Regions from separate parts of the Homo sapiens genome. Here region 1 is reported to be linked to region 2. Evidence: microRNA targets listed by miRTarBase, many of them from high-throughput screens and not tested one by one. Region 2 holds a microRNA gene; the other region holds the end of a gene's coding sequence.
Evidence for each region. Region 2 holds the annotated microRNA hsa-miR-3683 (UGCGACAUUGGAAGUAGUAUCA, at 2,301-2,322, opposite strand). A microRNA usually pairs through its seed, bases 2 to 8, with sites in the 3' UTR of a target mRNA and lowers its output. Matches are read on the target gene's strand: a 7mer-m8 pairs with bases 2 to 8, a 7mer-A1 pairs with bases 2 to 7 and ends in A, and an 8mer does both.

Region 1: the mRNA of NELFE is a reported target of hsa-miR-3683. The part of its 3' UTR that is shown has no 7-base or 8-base seed match.

The regions. Positions count from the first base shown.
Region 1 is chr6:31,949,584-31,952,875 of GRCh38, reverse strand. NELFE (negative elongation factor complex member E) reads left to right here. Exons shown (of 11, transcript NM_002904.6): 11 at 478-789. The coding sequence ends at 575. It overlaps CFB (complement factor B), which reads right to left. Exons shown (of 18, transcript NM_001710.6): 11 at 2,729-2,826; 12 at 2,473-2,590; 13 at 2,104-2,257; 14 at 1,932-2,008; 15 at 1,632-1,732; 16 at 1,403-1,535; 17 at 1,272-1,321; 18 at 792-1,001. The coding sequence ends at 846. Among named protein-coding and RNA genes, the nearest start is that of CFB, 5.1 kb to the right of the region's middle.
Region 2 is chr7:7,064,710-7,068,001 of GRCh38, forward strand. MIR3683 (microRNA 3683) reads right to left here and starts at 2,336; the gene lies at 2,255-2,336. The region is part of intron 1 of LOC105375138 (a long non-coding RNA gene); the gene reads left to right.

The DNA of each region.
Region 1 (3,292 bases), not on the chromosome of region 2:
ATGAGTTCTGGTGGAGCTAGTAGCATTTCTTAGTGTGAATAATCCATTTTCCCTGAAAGTAGATTTTCCTGGGAAAGGAGTGAGCAGAAAGAAGGGCTCAGCTACAGTGGCCCTTCAGGCAAAAGAAAGGAACTAGAATTGACCAGCATGTCAAAAAAGGGCTACAGAGGTTTTCTAGTTTTTAGCTTCTGACATACTGACTGTAAGTAGTGGGTTAATATCATTCACGTGTCTCAACAATGACATTTGGGATTTTTCTAAGAACAAAACATTCATCAAAATGTCCACTTATACTTTTCTTGGCCATGGGTTGGCACAAAGGAGCTAAGGAAGACAGGCCATCCTGGCCACCAGAGGGCAGCGTGGAAACTGGGCTTCCAGGGGCCAGTGGCCAGGAGTGAGGTGGTCAGGAGTCAGCCTCAGGGTCTGTTCTATGATCTCCTTTAGACCTTAACTGTTCCTCTCCTCCCTCCCTAGCTGTCCAGAACAGCCCTAAGGGTTGCCACCGGGACAAGAGGACCCAGATTGTCTACAGTGATGACGTCTACAAGGAAAACCTTGTGGATGGCTTCTAGGGAACAGAGCTGGATTCCTTGTGCCTCATATGCCCCAATGCTGGTCTCAGTAAAACACTGAGGTGGAAGCTTACACATCTCCCTCAGCCTCTGGTTTTTCAGCACTTGGGATTGGGGTTAAACCTTTAAAAACGGCTGTCAGGTTTGATCTCAGTGTAACAACATGGCCAGTGCCTGTTCCCCACTCCCTTGCCCCAAAAGGATCTGGAACACAGGTGTTGTCGCAGCTGTTTTAATTCAATCCCACGCCCCTGTCCAGCAGGAAACCCCTTATAGAAAACCCAAATCCTCATCTTGGAGTTTCTCCTTCAGCCAGGGCAGCACTTGAAAGAGGTTGATGTGAAAGTCTCGGGCGTGAGCAGGTACCTGCTTTTGCCGCTTCTGGTTTTTGCAGACATCCACTACTCCCCAGCTGATTACACCAACCTGCAGAGGCAGTGGGGTGCCATGGATCATTCAGTAGAATTCCTAATCCTGGAAGCATGGCTGTTCCTGCTTGTGTCTTAGCTGACCTAAAGGAATCAGACTAGGGACCCAGCTCAGCCTCGTTCTTGACACACGCAGGCAAGACATGCGGTCCTAAGGTGAGGCAGGCTCTGCCTACCTCGAATTACTAGCCACATGCATTGAGCTTTCCTGCTTTGGGGCCCATGCTGACCACTTGGCATCTCCCCAGATAGGAAAGGGAGGACTCACTTGAATGAAACGACTTCTCTTGTGAACTATCAAGGGGCCGCCAGAATCACCTGCAAGGAGAGGAGAAGCTGTAGAGAAAAGGACTGTTGGGCCTTGGGCACTTGTAGCACAACCAAAGAGCATTCTCTCACCTCTGCAAGTATTGGGGTCAGCATAGGGACTCACTCCTCCAGTACAAAGGAACCGAGGGGTGACCACCTCTGAGATGTCCTTGACTTTGTCATAGCCTGGGGCATATTGAGCATCTCTCTCACAGCTGCCTTTCTGTAGGGGAGGTGGGAAGCATGGAGAAGTAATGAACAGAAGTGGCTTAGGAAGGATTGGGGCCTAGAGTGCCTCCTTAGGATGCCCGTTTCTCACCTTATCCCCATTCTTGATGTAGACCTCCTTCCGAGTCAGCTTTTTCTCCTCCTCAGACACAAACAGAGCTTTGATATCCTGTGCAGGGAGCAGCTCTTCCTCTGGACGAATAGACTGCGTCACTTCAGCTGCTCCCACCACTGTCATCTCCCCATTGCCTTTGTCACTCAGTAGATGTCCCCTAAGCCCTTCTAGAGCTAGGTTCTGGGCCAGGCATCATCTCTTCCTATTGCACCTCCCTCTCATGCCCCACTTGTCTCTTGGGATCTCATCCTTATCCTCTTGCCAAGTATGTCTTACTTTGTTGCTGGCAAGTGGTAGTTGGAGGAAGCCTCAAAGCTCGAGTTGTTCCCTCGGTGCAGGGGAGACAAATGGGCCTATAAAGGACAAGGAGAACAGCAAACCAGGCCTGCTCCTCACCCCAGTCCTCCAGCCTTTCCCAGCCTTTCCTCAGGGATCTGGACGCTCTCACCTGATAGTCTGGCCATATTTCAGCTTATTCTTGAGCTTGATCAGGGCAACGTCATAGTCATAAAATTCAGGAATTCCTGCTTCTTTTTTCCCATTAATGTTGTAGTTGGGGTGAAATAGGACTACTTCTATCTCCAGGTCCCGCTTCTCCCCTCCTGAAGTAGGAGAGTAGGTACCACCTCTTTGTGGGCAGCTTCCTGCCTCTGGCCCCGTGTCATTCCTAACTTCACGTCTTCCCCCATCCCTGACTGGTCTGGGGTGCAAGGAATGGGGCTGCATTGAGGATGGGTGGAGTGTAGGATCTGTAGAAAGTGGGAGGTGTTGCCTGGAGAGCATAGGTGCAGCCCAGGACCTTCAGTTGCATCCTTACCTACGCTGACCTTGATTGAGTGTTCCTTGTCATCCACAGTGAAACAATGTGCTGCTGTCAGCACAAAGTACTCAGACACCACAGCCCCCATACAGCTCTCGTGTCCCTTTGAAGGGCGCTGGGGACACAACAGTAGAGAGGGAAAGCTCAACTTTCACAAACCACCATCTCTTATGGCCATTTTTTCCTTCCCCTACTCCCATTTCACCTTGACCTCACCTCCCCCAAGTCCCCACTACTGGGATTCTGTGCTTACAATGACTGAGATCTTGGCCTGCCATGGTTGCTTGTGGTAATCGGTACCCTTCCTGTGTTCCCAAACCATGCCACAGAGACTCAGAGACTGGCTTTCATCTGGCAGAGAAGGAGAATGTGCTGAAAACTCGGAACACTTCATTCCCAAATGGCAGCAGCCTTTTGGGTAGGAGTCTATGGGGAGCAAAGGCCCAAAAGGAGAAAGGGAAAGACCACGGGTATTTGTTTCCTCGTGTTAGGAGAAAACTGCTATGGTGGACTGAAAAGGGAAAGAACTTGGGATCAAGCTGTCAGAGGCCTGGCTGTTTTCAAGCCCACCCTTGTTGCTAACTTGCTGTCCCTTGACCTCCTTTGGCTTCTGTTTCCACGTGTCAAATGTAGGACTATAGAAAGATCTCTGAAGTGCTCAGAGCTCTGTGATTCTAAGGTTAAGTGAACAGTGCCAGGAAACAAGAATAGTGACACTGAGGTAGAGAAGGAGGAATGAAGAAGGCTTTCCAGGCAACTAGAGCTTCAGGTGTAGAGGAAGAATGAATTACTTCAGGGGAACCTGAGGAGAGTTGTG
Region 2 (3,292 bases):
TAGTGCAGGGGGAGTACACTCTTCCTGTGATGTTGTTCCTAATATCTAAATGAAGAGATAATGATATTACTTTCAATACCGCAGAGAGTGTACAACCCCCTGTGATATTGTTCCCAATAAACTAGTAGGGGAGAGAATGATATTACTTCTAACATTGCAGTGGCTCTTCTCCACACCCCCAACCCCGTGATATTGCTCTTAATTTCCAGCTGGTATAGTATAATGTTTCTCCCAGTATAGCAGTGGGTGTACACTCAACCTGTGATATTTCTCCGAATATTCAGGGAAAAACAGGATGATACTACTCTGAATATCGCAAAGAATGTACACTCCTTTTGTGATATTGTTCCTAATATCCAGAAGGGGAGAGGATGATATTACTTTTAATATCGCAGGCAGTGTACACCCCCCTGTGATATTGTTCGTAATATCCAGGTGAGGATAAAATGATATTACTCCCAATATTGCATGGGGTATACATTCTCCTGTGATATTGTTAGTAATATCCAGGGGAGCAGAGGTTGATATTACTGTCAGCATCGCAGGTGGTATACATTTCCCTGTGATATTTTTCGTAATATCAAGGGAAGAAGAGGTTGATATTAATCCCAATATCGCAAAGGTCATACACCCTCTGTGATATTGTTCGTAATATACGGGGGGGGGGGGAAGGATGATATTACTCTCAATATCGCAGAGGAATATACACATATCACAGAGGACCATATCACAGAGGAGGTACGCCCCCTGAGACACCCCCCTGCCATATGGTTCATAATATCCAGAGGGGGAGAGAATGATATTACTGCCAATATCGCAGGGAGTGTACACCTTCTTCTGATATTGTTTGTGATATCCATAGTGGAAGAGGATGGTATTACTCCCAATTTCGTAGGGGGTGTACACCCCCTTGTGATATTGTTAGTAATATTCAGAGGGGGAGAGGATGATATTACCCTCAATATCACAGGTTTTGTTCACCGCCCTGTTATATTGTTCATAATATCCAAGAGTAGAGATGACATAACTCCCAATGTCACATGGAATTTACCTTCTATGTGATATTGTTCATGATATCCAAGGTGGCAGATGATGTTACTTTCAATGTCGCAGGAGGTGTACACCCTAACTCATAATGTTCGTAATATCTAAGGGCGGAGATCATATTACTCCCAGAGTCGCAGGGGATGTACAACCTCTGTGATACTGTTTTTCATATCCAAGGGGGAAGATGATATTACTCCCAAGATCGTAAACACCCTGTGTATGCACTCTCTGTGATATTGTTCATAATATCCAAGGAGGGAGATGATTTTACTCCCAGTATCGCAGGGGGTGTACACCCTGTGTGAAATTGTTTCTAATATCCCAAGGGTAGATGACGCTTCTCCCAGTATCACAGAAGGTATACATCCTCTGTGATATTGTTCGTAATATCCAATGCGGGAGATGACGTTGCTCCCAGTATCGAAGGGCGTGTACCCCCTCTCTCTGTATTGTTGTTCATGATATTCAAGGGGGGAGATGACTTTACTCCCAGCATTTCAGGGGGTGTACCACCTTTTAGATGTTGTTCGTAATATCCAAGGAGGGAGATGACGTTACCCCCAGTATCGCAGAAAGTGTGCCCCCTCTGTAATATTGTTCATAATATCCCATGTGGTAGATGACGTTACTTCGAGTATTGCAGCAGGAGTACCCTGTGATATTATTTGTAATATCTAAGGGGAAAGATGACGTTACTCCCAGTATCTCAGAGAGTGTACCCTCTCTCTGATATTGTTCATAATATCCACGGGGTGAGATGACGTTACTCCCAGGATTGCAGGGGGTGTACCCCCTCTGCGATATTGTTTGTAATATCAAAGGTGGACGATGATACTACTCTCAGTGTCGCAGGTGGTGTACACCCTCTGTGATATTGTTCATAATACTCAAGGGGGGAGATGATACTACACCCAATGTCGCAGGGGGTGTACACTCTCTGTGCTATTGTTTGTACTATACAAGGGGAAAATGATACTACTCACAATGTTGCCGGAGGTGCACACCCTCTGTGATATTGTACGTATTATCTAAACGGGGAGATGACACAAATCCCAATGTCACAGTTGTTGGACACCCTCTGTGATGCTGTTCGTAATAATCAAGGGGGACGATGATACTACCCCCGATGTTGCAGGAGGTGTACAACCTCTGCGATATTGTGTGTGATACCCAAGATGGGAGATAATACTACTCCCAGTGTCGCAGGGGGTGTACACCTTCTGTGATATTGTTCGTAGCATCCAAGGGAGAGATGATACTACTTCCAATGTCGCAGGGGGTGTACACCCTCTGTGTTATTGTTCATAATATCCAAGGGGTGAGATGGTACTACTTCCAAAGTCATAGGGGATGTACTTCCTCTGTGATATTGATTTGTGATATCCAAGGGAAAAGATAATATTACTCCCAATGTCGCATTGGGTGTACACCCTCTGTGATATTGTTTGTAATATCCATGGGGGGAGATAATATTACTCCCAATGTCGCAAGGGGTGTATACCTTCTGTGTTATTGTTCATAATATTTAAGAGGGGGGAATGATATTACTCCCAATGTCCCATGGGTGTACATTCCAAGGGTGGATATAATATTACTCCCAATGCTGCAGGGGGTGTACACCCTCTCTGTTATTGTTTGTATTATCCAAGGGGGGAGATGATACTACTTCCAATGTCTCAGGGGATGTACATCCTCTGTGATATTGTTTGTACAAAATCACAGAGGATGTACACCCTTTCTGTTATTGTTCTTAATATCCAAGGGGGGAATGATGTTACAATGTCGCAGGGGGTGTACACCCTCTGTGATATTGGTCTTAATATCCAAGGTGGGAGATGATATAACTCCCAATGTCGCATGGGGTGTACACCCTCTGTGATATTGTTTGTAATATCCAAGTTGGGAGATGATATAACTGTCAATGTTGCCTGGGGTGTACACCCTTTGCGATATTTTTGGTAATATCCAAGGGGGATGATGATGTTACTCCCAGTATTGCAGGAGGTGTACCCCCTCTGTGATATTCTTCATAATATCCAAGGAGGGAGATGTCATAACACCCATTATCGCAGGGGATGTACCCCTCTATATCATTTGCAATATGCAATGGAGGAGATGACATTACTCCCAGTATCGCAGCAGGTGTACCCCCTTGTGATATTGTTCATAATATTGAAGGAAGGATATGATACTACTCCCCATATCATAACACCGTGTGTATACACTCTCTGTAATATTGTTTGTA